Linked DNA regions of Homo sapiens: regions 2 and 3 are each linked to region 1. The links come from fine-mapping of genetic effects on gene expression. A gene starts in region 1. Each other region holds a variant in brackets. All regions are shown on one strand. Distances are from middle to middle.

Region 1 (5,224 bases):
ACAGTCTTGCTCTGTTGCCCAGGCTGGAGTGCAGTGGCGTGATCTCGGCTCACTACAACTTCTGCCTTCTGGGTTCAAGCGATTCTCCTGCCTCAGCCTCTTGAGTAGCTGGGACCACAGGCGCCTGCCACCACACCCGGCTAAATTTTTTCTATTTTTTAGTAGAGATGGGTTTTCACCATGTTGGTGGTCAGGCTGGTCTTGAACTCCTGGCCTCAAGTGATCCACTCGCCTTGGCCTCCCAAAGTGCTGGGATTACAGGTGTGAGCCACCATGCCCAGCCACTGGTTGCCTTATTAATTTTAATAATAAAAGCCAAACGGTGCTAAGTGTTTTGTATATAATAGTTGCTTTTAATTTTTGAGTACTTAATATGTGATAATCACTGTTTAAATACTTTATAAATGTCACTAACTCACTTAATCCTCGTGTCAACTCACTAAAATAGGTCTATTATTATCACCATTTCCATTTTACAGACAGAGAACCTGAGACACACAGAGAAGGAATAATTCACCCAAGGCCATATATTTAGTAAGAGGTAGAGCTGAGATTTAAACCCTGGCAGTCTGGTTCTAGAGCCTGTGCTCTTTGCTCCTATGTTACACTCGCTCTTATGATGGAAGCTTCTCATCACTCTCTCTGCCCATTTTACGGGGGAGGAAACTAAAACATACACTTGTCTAATCATTTGCATAAAATCTGCCAGTCAATGCTGAAGCCAGAATTAGAAGCCACGTTCCTAACTCCCAGTCCAGTGCTCTCTCCTCAGACCACCCTGCTGTCTCTGAGGCCACCTGAGCAGACACATAATCCCCACCTTCTACCTCCCTCTCCAACACACACACACACACACACACACACACACACACACACACACACCCCACCCAGCAGGCACCCAGACATATTTGTGGCCAGGATGGCTACAACCTCCTTTGAAAAGCAGCCAGCTTTGCCCTCCACCAATAACTTTGTTTTATTTATAGTCTCCTGCTCAGAGCTTTTGAACTGGCTCCCATTCCAGGGAAGATCTTGATAGCAACTGTTCCTTGGAGAAGTTTCATAGGTGAATAAACACCACAGAGCTCCTGCCTGTCTAGCAGAGCTTTGCTCCTGGGGGTGTTTACAAGTCGGTATTGGTGTCTGGGTGCATAAGACTTTAAATTCAAAATGACAGTTTGGACATTTTCACTTTTTTTTTGGTTTTCATTTTAAAAAGTTTACCCTTTGACTTCAACAACCTAAAGGCAGAGGCAAAAGGGAGAAACTATCTTTATTCAGAAGGTGACTCCAACAGAAGAAGTCTTCTACGACTTATCTTCTGGCTTTCTTTCCTCCCATCCTGGCCGGGAGCTAGGACGCAGGACCAGTTACGTAGAGGCTATGGGGTGGGGGTAGGGTGGGGAGGCACTCCATGCATTTATAAGAACTAAAATGGCAGAAGTGATGAATGGCATTTCGGGACAGAAAATTGGAAAAAAAAAAAAAAAAAGGAAAAAAAGCCTAATATTAAAAATGTCTTTGGACTTGTGGCCAAAGGTGCCACCTTAAAGCATGACTATGTCACAGGTGTCTGGAATGATTCAGTCTGGACACTAATCTTGGCTTCTTCACTCGTTGCTAGTTATGTGACCTTGGGAATGTGGCTCAGTTTCCTCTTTGTAAATTAGGGAGATGAACACAGGATTATTGTGAGGATTGGCACTAATGATGTACGGAAATACTGTGTCTGATGCAGAAAGGGCACTCACCCGCTCATTAAAGGGTGGCTAATGGTAGCTGTGATTATTGCTTCCTTTATGATCCCTCTGGCCCTAGAGGGGATGAAATTGAGGTGTTCATGGAAGTGAATCCCAAGGGGGAGCAGGGGTAGGTAGCAGGCTGGTGATCTCGGCTCTCAAATCCTTTCATTTGCATTGAGTTAATCTCTATCAGGGACTGTTGTGTTAACAGGAGGCTTCGATGTTGGAGTTCCCAAAACGGCTGATAAAGGGAGGCAGAGGTCCTCAGCGGGAGGGCAGAGCTGAGCCACCACGTGGGTCCACGAAGCCCCCAGGTGGCTTTCCTGTAGGTATGTGGGGTCTCCTTCAAGCTCTAAGGGGAAAGGAAGAGGAAAGGCCTTCAGATGGGGAAGTGGACGGTGTGATGGAGAAGAGGTTCTGCACGGAACTTACTGGAAGGTGCGGGATGTTAAAGGGAAAACGTGTTTTCATGGAGGCCTGGGCGGGGGATTAGCTCTCCGTTAGAGAGGCTGGGTGGGAGGCCTCCAATGGGAGGATTGGTGGCGGTTTCATCGGGAGGGCTTGGGGTCTCCATGAGAGGATTAGGGTCTCTTCAGGGCGGCTGTGAGTGGAGGTTTCCAGCGGGGCGCAGTGGGGTGCAGATGTGTAAGGGCCTGCAACGGAACGCCAGAGTCCTCCGGGGCCCGCGCCCTGGGAGACGTGCGGGTGACCGCGCTCCCGCCCCGCCCCCACCGGCCACGGCCCCGCCCCCGCGAGCGGACTACACTTCCCAGCAGCCCCAGCGGGCAGCGGCGGCGGCAGCGCGGGCGGGAGGGGCGGTGGTGAGAGGCGGAGGGGGCGGCGCGCGCCGGGCACGCGCGCCGGCGACCATGGCGTTCGCCGGGCTGGAGCGAGTACATTAACCCCTGGAGGCGGCGGCGGCGGCGAGGGAGCGAGCCTCGAGCGGGCGGGCCCCAGCCTGAGGGAAGGGAGGAAGGGGCGGGGAGAGCGCCAGAGGGAGGCCGGTCGGCCGCGGGCGGGCGGGCAGCGCAGCGCCGAGCGGGGCCCGCGGGCCCATGAGGAGGCCTGGGGACCATGGGCTCCAGGATCAAGTGAGTGCGGCCGGGCCGGGCGGAGCCGGGCCGGGCGCGGGGCGGCGAGGCCGGGCCAGGGCTGCAGGCCGCGGGCCGCGCGGGGGACTTGTTGCCGAGACCAGAGGGGCGCCCCGCGTGACGCCGGCACGCGGGGAGGGGGACGGTTGCTATGGCGATCCAGGGAGGCGCGGGGGCGGGGTGCGCGCGGGGTGGCAGGGCGCCGGGGGTCAGGTGTCCCCTCCTCACCTGGGGGTCGGAACAGCTGAGATTACAGGGCGGCCCCCTCCCCGGGTTTACGGAGAGCCCCTGAAAATGGTCCTTCAACTGTGGGGAAGGGGAGTGGGAAAGCCCCGGAAGCACCTCCCCATGTTTGGGCATGTTTGGGGCGCCCCTGAAAGTTGGCAGGTCCGGAGAGGTTGCAGCCTGGCCGCTTGAGGCCTGCGGCCCCCACAGAAGTCGCGTGAGGTTCTTAGAGGGAGGGGCCGCTCATGGTGTGGCCACCTAAGGTGTGGATGGCCGGGGAGGAAGGCCTGTCTCTCTATTTCCCCCCTCTTATCTGTGAAAATCTCCACGCAGCAAGGTCCAAAGGCTGTGAAGGAGGATACCTCTGTGTTGTAACCGAGCACCTGCTCTTGATAATCGTTGGAAAGGCTTTGTAACTCAATCTGGCGAATTCCCTCACTCATTCATTCACCTGGAGTTCCCGGTGGAGGGTTAGCTTTCCGGGGAAATTGTTGATACATGTAACTTCAGAATCCACTGAAACATTGTTGCTGTCCTTGTAGACTTAGAAGTTGACTTTGGAAAGTGCAACTCTTAAGCGGTCCAATTTGGGTGTGTGGCTTTCGACTCTATCTCCCCTCCCAGCCAGGTCCTCTTGTGGCCTCTCCCTTCCTCTGCCCCAGAACTGGAGATGTTTTATCTCTAATTACTAACAAATGTTCACTTTTTCCTCTGTGACTAATAGAATTGTTTAAGGGCATTAAAAAGCAAAGTTGACAGCATAGGCTTTTCTGTAAAACAACTTTCCTAGGACACTTTAAACCCTCTTACAAGAAAGTTTGTGGAATGTGTTTATTTCAGCATTTTGAGAATTGTACTAGGGAAGTTTGAAAGGAGAAGGGCCTTAAGGGTGAAACTAATAATTATTCAAACATTGCATCTCATGTCCAGGTGATGCCCGTGCAGTGTGACCCTTGCCCAGCCTTGCAGTCCCCCGTGTGGTTAGGCTTCTCATTTACAAAATATGTATGAGATGCGCTGCAGCAGCCTTGAGACATCTGCTGAATGAAACTAGAAAAGTTTGCTTATGGTAATGAAAATGGAAGAGTCGCATGAACACTCTGTTAAATCTTTATTTTTGTGGAAATGAGAAAAAAGTTAGAAGCATGCTCCAAACAAGAGCTTGAGAGGCTTGGGAGGTAAAAAGATGTCGTTTGTGAAACATTGGGATTAAAGAGGCACTCAAGTTTAGCTCCTGCTTCCAAGTAAGAGTTGTAAACTTGGATTTCAATAGCACTTAGAAACACTTTCCAGAAGCCAACTTAGAGTTGCAGAGTATGCGTGAGGACACTTACCCTTCTTGTTACAGAAAAGTTCAGAAACTTGCCTGACATGAAGCAGTGAGTGTCAGAACCAGTATTAAAATCCAGCAAGTAAAAGTTCAGATGGCTAGCCATCAAATCTCTCTGTTGCTCTCCAAGGTAGCAGGTTGACAAATACATTTCTCAAATGTGTTTTGTGGAACCCATCGCTAATTCTGAGCACTTGGGTTAGGGAATTTACTAAGGCATGGAATTGTATTAAGCGTGAAATGAGTATGAAGAATAGCCTTATTGATCTTGAAACTAGACTACTCTGTGATAAAAACTTAGGCTTGGGAAATATGTTAGCTTGTGGTGAAACCGAAAGAGAATATGAAGAGAGAAGTTATGAAAAGTAGTTGTGATTTATAGTGACTGTTGATTATGCAACTTCTGCCTGTAGCTAGGAATGGGGATGGACAGGAAATTACCCACTTAAGTGCTCCTCTAGTTGTTGGAGAAGACAGAGCTTTGGTTACTACTGGCTGGCTTTCCCTCCTGGCAGGGCATTCAAGATGTTCTCCTGGCTGTGGTGAAATCTAAGTGTGCAGGTTCCATTGAATAGGACAGTCTTGGAGGTAGGGACAAGGGGGAGGGGTTCCTTTTGTTTTCTCTTGCTTATCTCTGATGCAGCAAGTCAGTTGACTAGGTGGAATCAGGTCTAGGTTCAAATTCCAGCTCTTTTTAATGCTAATTATGAAACTTTACACAGACTGCCTTTTCAACCTCAGTTTCCCTGAAGGTAAAATGGGGAGGACTGTGTCCAGGTTGTAGGGTTATTATGAGCATTGAACACAGTATCAATGTAAATGTCAGGTCCATGTTA
Region 2 (5,224 bases), 510 kb after region 1:
TGCGCTCTCTGCCCCCAAGTCACCACCTGGCCGTCGAGCGTTTTCCACCCTGCAGCCCTGTGCGGGGTGCCCACTCATCCATGCCACCCAGGTAATTAAGTTGCTATTCCAACGCGCCTTCCCCTCCTGACCTTTTGGAAACAATGTGTTTTGCTGCATCAACAAATGAACTGCAAATCAGATGCTGTCCTCATAAATGCCGGTTTCATATCCAATGAGCATACTCACCTGGCCCACACAGCTGACAGATAGAGATGCCGAGGGCCAGGCAGAGACCAACAAAGGCCAAAGAGGTCCCCTCTTCTCAGGGACTTCTGTGTCAATCATGCCTTCGGTCTTACCCTCTCTTGTGTTCACATCTCCCAGCAGTGGTGTGGCCAGGGCCGGTGGGTTGGCAATATGGAGGCCTGGGCAGGCTCCTGTGATTGGAGGGGAGTGTCTGTTCCTAGGAGCATACCCCATCCTCCTCCAATGCATTTTCTATACCAAGGACGTCAAGGTTCCTCTTATTGTGTCTCTGATTATATCCCTCCCACTGAGCTCAGAAGAAAATCCGCAAATTCTCAGCCTGACATTCAAGGCCCTCTTTTTATCTGACCTCCCCCAGCCCCTCCCAGGTCCTGGCCTGCCCTGTCCTCATATTCAGCCTCACTCTTGTCTGATTGGACCACTGTGGGTCCCCTGTCCCTGCACTCCCTACCACTGCCCCCCCCCCAATCTATGGCAGAGACCTTCCTGTGTACCCCATGCATGACAGCGCCCTCTACCAGAGTCTTGGTGAGACATGTGCCCCTGTGCCTGGGATGCCACGCACTGTTTGTTGAATGAATGGACAAATGAATCAGGTGCCTCCTTTGGAAAGCACCACAAAAAGATGCTCAAATAAGGAAAGAAGGAGAAGGTGACAGTTACTCTCTCATCAGCCTTTTCTCTGAGGCACAGATCTCTAACAACAGATTCTAACTTCAGAAGGGACAAGGATTAGAAGAACCGTGTCAGAAAGGATTCCAGGTGACTTTGGAAATTTTAGTTGACAAGGATAGCACAATGGGCTAAGAATACCTGCTTGTTTTAGTTTTCGCTACTAGCTGTGTGACCTCATACTAGTCCCTTAACCTCTCTGGGCCTCCTGTTTCCTGTCTCTGTAACAGGGAAATAATCCTTCTCTAACTTGCCTCACCAGGGACTGTGAGGTTCAAAAGAAAGAACAGAAGTTAAAATGCTTTGAAAGGAAAACACATCATATAAATAGAAGAGATTATTATTAAAATCCAGTGTCCTTCAACAGAACCTTGCTGATAGCACACAGCTTTGGAAAACCAGGGTCCTCACGTCCATAGGACTTTTCTGGAAAGACCTGTGGGTACCATGGGGAGATGGAAGATGGAGTGGTCCCATTTCATCTTCAGGATATCAAACCAGAACCTCGTGCGGCTGTAACTGTACTCTCATCCTCACACCGATGCTTGTAACCTGGGAGTTTTGCCATTTTACAGAAGAGTTCACTGAGACTTAAGAGAGATTAAATAACTCGCCTAAGTGGCAGAACCAATACTGAAGTCAACTAGAAAATGACAGAACCAACTCGTGAACCCATGGGTTTCTAACCCGAAGTCTATTTCTTGGGGTTTACCCCACCAATATTTCTTTCACTTTAAGAAGTTATTTTCCCATGGTGTAGGTCAAATCCCACCAGACTCTGCAGTCCTCAAGGACAAGGACTGTGTCTTATTCTCTGAATCCCCCTGGTCCTGGCCCCCAAATACTTAGTTGTTCCATAAAGACACACAGGAGGAATCCTTCCACTCTGTGACAGTCCATCTGCTTCCCCTCCAGATGTGTTTTTCAGGAAAGCAGGCACTTTGCGTTGACCATCGAAGAAAACTCCGGCCTTCTCCCCGCTTCGCCGGCCCTCTCTCCCCTCCTGCCCTGGCCCAGCTCGGGAAGTGCTGGAGGAACTGTCGAATTGAACTCTCCTTAGCAAAAGATCGCCAAAGGCCCAGTCTTTTTGAACTGACTTAAGAAGCAGCAGTCTGTGTAGCCACATTTCAACCCGGCCAGGGGACAGAGGATCACATATAACATGACCTCAATGCAAAGATGCCCAGACTGCTTCGATTCTCTGCTGCATCTACTTTAAAGCTCTTCCAGTTTTACCTTCCTTTCCTTCAGCGGTGGAAAGAGCACTCAAGCGGTCAGCGGTCAAGAGGCCTTCCCGATGACAACCAACACTCCCAGCTCTGCCCATTACCAGCTGGGGGTGTTGAGCAGCTCGCTTTACCTCCCTCCAATCTGTTCCCTTTTCCATGGCCACTAGGACACTTAGCAAGGGCAGGAGCACCAGCGTGAAAGAGGAGCAGGCTCAGGGGCCCAGCCCTGGGCTGTGGGCTGGGGATGCAGACAACCAGAGCTGAGTCAGATGGGAGAGGAACCACTCCAGGTTCAGAATAACTTTCACTGAGTCCTGGCCAGCTCTGCCGTCCTCTCGGGCCTCACACCAACCACACTGTTGTAGTCCCTACATTCAGCTAGTGCTGGCTTCAGCTTCTAGAGCACCGGGGCCACTCTCTGGAAGAGAGCATGCTTTTCTGAGTTGATCCTTTCCTAGCTCATCCCCTTACCCCCTCTTCCCACCCAAATCACTACTACTCACCTCCTACAGTGTTTAATGGTCTCCAGACTACTCTTCCCCATCTGTGTCCCCAGCTGGGGACACCCCAGCTTATTTGGGAAACTGCAACCACCATGGCCGATGGCCCCACCACGCCCTGTCTAGGAAGCAGAGGCCTCCCCAGCAGCGTGTCCACTGTGCCCCTGGCCCTGCGTGAAGTGCCATCAGATGCCCCGCATCCCTGCAGCAGGGCCCTCGTGACTGGCCTCACAGATGAGGACACAGAGGCCCAGGGAAGTCACTTGCTTGCCAAAGTCACTCAGCAAACCAGCTAGGCCTGGAGACCCTGCGGTGGGAGCAGGAGGGCCCTGCACACAATCAGATGTTCTAGTGTCCGAAATCTGAGAC[T/C]GCTTCCCACGGGATTACTGTCTAATCCGCTGGTGACAATCCAGCTGCTCACCTGTCCCCAGCCTCAGCTCTGGTCCCCAGGGCCTGCACACTCCTGGCAGGGCATCCTGATAATTAGTGCAGCCCTCCCCTTCTTCCTCTCCCCAGCCCCAGGGTGGAGGGTCTTCAATGCGCACCCCCTGGGAGTTCACCTTTCTCTTCCTGGCGGCCACCCCACAGGAGGTGTCCCCATCATATGCTCCAGCATCATAACAAGCCCAGGGTCGGTGAGTGCAGCCCCCGTCCCTGTGTGTTTCCTCTGGTGACAGGATCCCCTCGTGCCGACAACCCGCAGGGAAAACTCCCCGAGTGTCAGAAGGGGCAATGTGGCTTCCTGTTCTTGGTTGCCGTTGTTGGGTTTTATCTGACTGGGTGCGCCAGGACATCTGTACCACGTTACTCTTTCTTGGCATCTTTATATCCCGCTGGCTCACTCTGCTAACTTTTAGAATGGGTGTGGTCAAGAGGCTGCTTTCTTCCCACCATTTATCAATTCAGTTGCAAAACAGCCAGCACTTCCCGAGGACAAGCAAAAGAAAATGAGTTAATTGAAGAATCTGGAGAATTGACATTTGGTGTGTTTTTACATGTGCCAGGAAGTTTAAGCCAAAAGTAATTTGCTGAGCACCTATTAGGTATCAAGTACTCTACTAGACCCTATGGTAAACAGAGAAGTGAGTGAGCTGATAACGACAGCCGGTGTGCTGTGGATGTGAGGCGGGGTTTTACCAGAGATGAGATTGCGGAGGTGGATGGCGGGGCCCTGAATCTGGAGGGCTTTGAACACTTCAGACAGCATTTTCCAGGGGATATTCATGGGTGGTATAGGGAAAGCAAGTCTATGTTCAAATAAACTTGGGAAATAGGACTTTTTAAAAAAGAGTTAATAGGTTTTTGCCTGGTTTGGGTGGGTTTTTTTCTTGCAAGACTCACCAGCCTTTGCTATGCTAACAGGCGTTGTGAATCCCCAAAAGGAGCAAGACAGAAGACAGCATTTCTCAGATTTGCCTGGCTGGGGAACCTCCTTTTTTCCCTTCACACAATGCGTCTCCCAGGATGGTGTTTCTCAGCAGACACCCTGTGAGATGCCGGCCTTCCACTGAGATGATTTCATCTGCCAAGTGCCAAGACTGGGTGGACATTTTTTTAAGTCCTCTCTGGAAACAAATGTAGGCGATGGACTGGGAGGGGGAGAGGCTGGAGGCAGGGAAACCTGCTGATGGTAATGGTTGCTAATGTCTGTTGGTGGCACTGTGCAAAGAACCTGACGTCCATCATCTCGTTGAATCTTCCTAACAGGACACTCGGGTAGGCAGTGCTGTTACCTGTACTTCACAGATGAGGACAGTAAGGCTTGGAATGGTCAAATCGTGGGCCTGGAGTAACCCAGGGAGTAAATGGGAGAACTGGGGTTCTCTCCAAAACTGTCTGACCCCTAGAGGCTGCCTCCCGAGCGCTCTGGTGCACTGCCACCCAGCAGGAATGGAAATAGCCCAAGCCAGAGGTGACAAGCAGTGAAGACAGTGGGGCTGGAGAAGATGGTTCCCCCGAAGTAGAAAGGCCAAGCATAAGAGAAGCAGTATTGTGGGGAGTGGTGTAGGAGAGCTGGGTGTCTAGACAGGGTAGCAGCCTGTGCACCGGTGGAGGGGGTGGGCTCCCCTCTCCCTGATCACCTCTTCCTCTTGATGAATGGTGTGAATTGAGGGGTGGGGGGGCTGTTCCCCTTTCCCCCACACACTTCCTGTAAGCCAGGAAGGGGAAAAAACATGGTGGCCTTGCCCATCCCTAGGCAGCACCCCCAACTCCCGGGTAGCTGTCAGCTGAAGGGTCACCAAGCATGGGTCAGCCCTCACGCCCAGCTAATGGCATAGGATCTGGGAAGCCACGGTGTCATTCTATCCCATCGTGTTCTCCATGTGCCGCCAGGGAACCCTCCACCAAGTCCCTGGACCCGCTTTCCCCTCAGGCTGCCCCGACAGGTTCCATGCAGAGCACCAGGGACCCAGGGACAACTGGGACACAGGCCCTGCCCTCCAGGAGTAGTGGGGCAGGTTCAGAAAACAAATTCTAAGGCAGATTTGAGATCTGAAGTGTCACTCCCACTCAGTAGAGCCCTATATCAGCACTGTCCAAGAAAAACATAATGGGAGCTTCATACGGGAGTCA
Region 3 (5,224 bases), 300 kb after region 1:
ATGCATTTTACCCCGATTGCAGAAATTTGGCCCTTAGAAAACCCACTAATGAAATGAGCAAACACCTTAAAAGCTTGATTTTTTGTTTTTTTGTGAAGGATAAGTAATTTTAAAATCTTGGCATTGAGGTTGGTGGGTTTGCTTTTGAGGTTAAAAAGACATGAAAAGAACATTATCTGAAGATGAGATCTCTGCTACTTTATGTTTAAATAGGCTTTTGACCCAAACCAGTTTAACCTAAAAAGAGTCACATAATCAAGTTCTGTCTTAACCAGGTTCATTCTATTAAATGACTTTTTCAAAGAGAATCACAAATTAATTCATGTGATGATGTTACCTTCATTTGTATGGGACCTTGTAGATTTTGAAGTGCTTTTATTTATTTATTTATATGTTGTGGAGTTAGAGAGTAGGCATATGATTGAATGAATGGGCGAATGGATGAATGAATGACTTGGTTTTCCAAAAGTGCCATGCTTGTGTGTCTAAGCTTGCTGTTTTTGTTTTAGACATTTTTTCCTTTCTTTCTTTTTTGGGGGGACAGAGTCTTGCTCTGTTGCCTAGGCTGGAGTGTAGTGGTGTGATCTCAGCCCACTGCAACCTCTGCCTCCTGGGTTCAAGCAATTCTCCTGCCTCAGCCTCCCGAGTAGCTGGGACTACAGGCATGTGCCACCATGCCTGGCTATTTTTCTGTATTTTTAGTAGAGATGGGGTTTTGCCATGTTGGCCAGGCTGGTCTTGAACTCCTGATCTCAAGTGATCCGCCCACCTCAGCCTCCCAAAGAGCTGGGATCACAGGCGTGAGCCACCGCACCCAAACTGTTTTAGACTTTGAGTCATGTACCTTACTCTGTGAGACTCATGGGAATGTTGATACACTTCTGTTAAAAGCCAAGTTACTAAACTGTCTTTGTACTGTGAGTATATTCTAAGTAAAAATCATATTTTATTTATTCAGGACACATCCCATTAACTAGTGCACGTGTGTGTGTTGTGTGTTCTGGGCCACTGAGAACATGGAGGTGAGGACAGGATCTTCCTGTACTTTACAGTCAGGAAACAAACATGCAGCCAGTTATGGTCCAGTTAATAATGGGTGCCTATGGGCTGGGTGCAGTGGCTCACGCCTGTAATCCCAAGACTTTGGGAGGCCGAGGTGGGTGGGTCACTTGAGGTCAGGAGTTTGAGACCAGCCTGGCCAACATGGCGAAACCCCGTCTCTACAAAATATACAAAAATTAGCCGGGCATGGTGGCACACACCTGTAGTCACAGCTACTCAGAAGGCTGAGGCAGGAGAATTGCTTGAACCTGGGAGGCAGACGTTGTAGTGAGCCGAGATCGTGCCACTGCACTCCAGCCTGGGTGACAGAGTGAGACCCTGTCTCAATAATAATAATAATATTATTATTATTATAATAGGTGCCTATGCACAGGGAACCAGGGAAGACTTTGAAGAGGAAGTACTTACACAGAGACCTGAGGGAGGAGTTTGCTAGAGGCACAAATCCAGGCCAGTTTGGGGGACGGGTGGAAAGGGATGGGAGGAAAAGGAGTACATGACTCTATCTAAGTGATGTATTCCAAGGACAGACTTGGAGAAGATGGTACAGAGTGTGGCTACAGATGGCTGCTGTAAAGCTAGACCGTGGGCTGGTGGAGCCATCCGGGCCAGGCTTGTCCCCAAAGACTTCTGAGTAGGAAGTGATGGGCCGGAACCTGCACTTGAGGAGGAGCGCTCTGGCAGCTAGTTAAAGATGAGCAGAAAGAGCTGAGACCCAGGGCCAGTGGAACCCTCCAGCCTGACTTCAGGGTGGAATCAGGTCAGAGTTGGTTCATTCTCCACTCACTCAACACCAGCAAGGACTTTTCATCTCTAAGAAGCCCTGAAGGGATTAGTTTTATATATGTGTATTTTTGTATGTGAGATATATATATCTATATCACCCTCCTTTATATGGGTACCTATGGAAATAGAATGTGAAGGGATGGGTTAAACCTGCGAGCCTTGACGGGGTCACTGGGAACTGTTCTTGGGTGCCTGCTGAATCAGTTCCAGTTCATGGCATGGACCTGGCTCAAGAACAGGGTCTGGAGGAAAGAGTCAGGGCAGGTGGGGGTGGGGAGTAGCAGCCCTGGCTTTAACACACAGCTCTCACAACTGTGAAACATCAGCAGAATATCCAATTTAAAGCTGTTCATGTTACACTAACCTCTGGGATTCTTTTAACTGGGCCTTGGCACGTCACTCTTTCGCCACGTAAATGTTCTTCTGTCAGCAAAGGCCAGTTAACAGCTTCCAAAAGAAGCAAAGTCCTCATGGGAACAGGCTTCCCTGAAACCAAAGAAACATTAAAGAAAAAAAGACAGAAAGAAATATGTGTTGTTGGCTTTTGTCACTTCATACCTATATCTCCAAAAGTTGTTTTTTTTCCCTTTCTTTTCACTATATTGAATTTTGTAGCAATTGTATCCCTTTGTAGTATCTTTGTTTCCTAAATTTTTAATTGCATCAAATACTGATTGTATGATGTCTCTAGCTCTCAAGAAAAAAAAGGAATACAAAATAGGGGCAAGTCAAAAGACTGTGGAGAGGAAGGATTAGTCAGTAAACAGTGCCAGAGCAATTGATTACCTATGTGGAAAAAATAAATTCTCACCTCAGTCCTTAAACCTAAAGTAATTCCAGATGGACTGAAGAGTTAAATGCTAGGGGAAAATTTGGAGGACTTTCTTGGGATAAAAGCAGTAGAAACCATCATGGAAGAAAATATTTGTCTACGTAATTATTTAGACCTTCTCTTTGCCCAGAAATTCAAAGAAAATTAAGGATAAATTATTTTCAAAACATTACAAAGGCTGGGTATTCTTTGCATTTCATCAGTGATTGCTTATAAACCAGTAAAAATTACTAATACTCATTTTTAAAGTGGGCTAAGAATATGAATAGACCATTTGTCTATTATATAAATATAGTGAAGAAACATATGACAAAATGTTCAACCTTAGTCCTGATCAGAATAAAAATAAAAGTAAAATAGGTACAATTTTAAAGCTACTAACTTGACTACAAGGAGTAGTGCTGGTGAGGGGCAGGGAGGCCAGAATCGTGGTGTATGGCTGGGGGTCGGGGGTGTAAAGAGCCTCCATCCTTCATCTATTCATTATACTAACATA[C/T]TTATGAGATATGTATTTATTAAGTGCCTTCAAATGTTTATAACCTTTGTCTCTGAATTCTACATTTAGGAACTATAGATACAAATTATTGACCTGTATGATGATATTACTTAATGGTAGTAGAGTAGCTAAATATATTAATAGCATGGGAAATTCATCGAGTATCATTAAAAGATATTTTTTCTAAGAATATTTAAAGAATATTCTGGATTTGTGCCTTTAAAGCATCATTAAGAGATATCTTTTTCTAAGAATATTTAAAGGAAAATGGCATCAAATAATGTTCACTTTTAAGAAACACAGAAGAATACTGTATAGTCATCCTAATTGTATTTAAAAGGGGAATATATGTGCTTGTGTGTGTAATAACCTACAATGTTAAATCTTCTGATGGTGTGGCATTTATTTTAATCCCTTTCACCATTTTAAAAATTTTCTATTTCGTATATTAGCTTTATCATCAGAAAAAAAGATTTTTTGAAAAGAAAGCTCTTACTAAATTTGAATTAGGGTGATTGAGTTAACTTAGAATGATTTCTCCAGGTTTTTCAGCTTATCATGTAAACATATTGAAGAATTATAGAATTGTATTGCTGAAATCAAATGGCGGTGTCTCCTCCCTTGGATTTGTTCATTGATCTCTGCTTTGCTCTGTTCCAGCTGACTGCCTGCATCCACGGGTCTGCGGCGATGCTCTACCCCATGTACTGGCAGCACGTGTACATCCCCGTGCTGCCGCCGCATCTGCTGGACTACTGCTGGTAAGGTGGCTGGCCCTGTCCTCTGCTTCTCCTTTGCCCTGATCTGACTGGGCGTGTTAGGTGTGTCACTTGTTAATGCAGTTGGTGACTCTACATTAAAAATATTAACTTCATCCAGCCTGGACAAAATAGTGAGAATCCATCTGTACAAAAAAAAAAAAAAAAAAAAAAGCCAGTCATGGTGGCACATATCTGTAGTCCCAGCTACTCAGGAGGCTGAGTTGGTAGGATCATTTGAGCCAGAGAGGTTGAGGCTATAGTGAGCTATAATTGTGCCACTGCACTCCATCCCGGGCAACAGAGTGAGACTCTGTCTCAATAATAATAATAATAGAAATACTAACTTCTAAGTGGCATGGATTTAAGACCACCTGATTGCACGGCCCTTTCATTTCCAGTTTTCTTATATGTCATGACACTCTGAAGAGTACAAGAGAATAGGTAGTAACTTTTCACATTTCTCAGTTTGGGGGAAGCAATGCACCAAAAGGTTGCGTGTTTGTTTGTTTGTTTTTTCCTAAGACAAATTGTAAACTGGGGACAAAAACAATTGAGATCTCCAAGGTCTTCAAGTTTCAGCCATGCCCTGGCACATTCCTTAAGACTTGTGCTCACTGTGGTTTGGGAGCACAAGCCAGGCAGCGCTAAACTGTCTGAAGTTCTTTGAGGAGAATTTCACTGTTCAGTGAAACAGACTTTAGTAGAAGGAAGAAACAAAGGTTTTGGCGACAGCCCTACCATCTTGGGCAAGTCACTTGGCTTTAAGACTTTGTTTACTCATCTGTAAAAGGAAGTTGTTCAATACATAATCATACAAAGATGAAACAAGATAACATATGAAAGGACCCCATGTAGAAAAGCTGGCTCATGGTAGCTCAGAAAATGTTTCCGCAGACACATCATCGTCCTCACTATCTGTCTTCAATAGATTACCAAAACAGACTGTCTTTGTGACCGATTTGGATCCCTTTTCCTCATGAATAATTTCTTTCTCTAGTGTAATGCAGTTAAAGACATTGTCTCCAAACAGTTCAAGTCAACAGAAGTCCGTAAGGGAGCATGGTACACAGACAGGGAAAGGCACTAACTGCGTGCCGGATATTGAGAGCTTCAGGAGAAGGGAAGCCATTTGAGGGTCATAGCCCTGTTGCTTAAGGACAGATGACACGGGACACTGACCACTGGTTCGGAGTGATTGAGTCCAGGTCAGTCATACTTTTGCTGGGATCTCCATTCCATTTTGCAATCATCTCACTGGAAAGGTCCACCCAAGTAGCCAGATTGTCC

What was found. PIP is the estimated chance that this variant, and not a neighbour inherited with it, causes the effect. A credible set is the group of variants that fine-mapping cannot tell apart.
Region 2: its variant is the best candidate, but not a certain one, in a credible set for the expression of DENND1A in testis (GTEx, PIP 0.70).
Region 3: its variant is the best candidate, but not a certain one, in a credible set for the expression of DENND1A in testis (GTEx, PIP 0.56).

Annotation. Positions count from the first base shown.
Region 1 is chr9:123,927,498-123,932,721 of GRCh38, reverse strand. It overlaps DENND1A (DENN domain containing 1A), which reads left to right and starts at 2,596. Exons shown (of 24, transcript NM_001352964.2): 1 at 2,596-2,833. The coding sequence starts at 2,817. RefSeq lists a silencer at 2,370-2,859 and enhancers at 3,210-3,409, 3,039-3,724, 3,660-3,739, 4,790-4,839.
Region 2 is chr9:123,413,377-123,418,600 of GRCh38, reverse strand. The region is part of intron 19 of DENND1A (DENN domain containing 1A); the gene reads left to right. Among named protein-coding and RNA genes, the nearest start is that of MIR601, 13 kb to the right of the region's middle. The variant T/C (reference allele first, on the strand shown) is at 3,020.
Region 3 is chr9:123,629,089-123,634,312 of GRCh38, reverse strand. It overlaps DENND1A (DENN domain containing 1A), which reads left to right. Exons shown (of 24, transcript NM_001352964.2): 10 at 3,837-3,937. Among named protein-coding and RNA genes, the nearest start is that of MIR7150, 150 kb to the right of the region's middle. The variant C/T (reference allele first, on the strand shown) is at 3,177.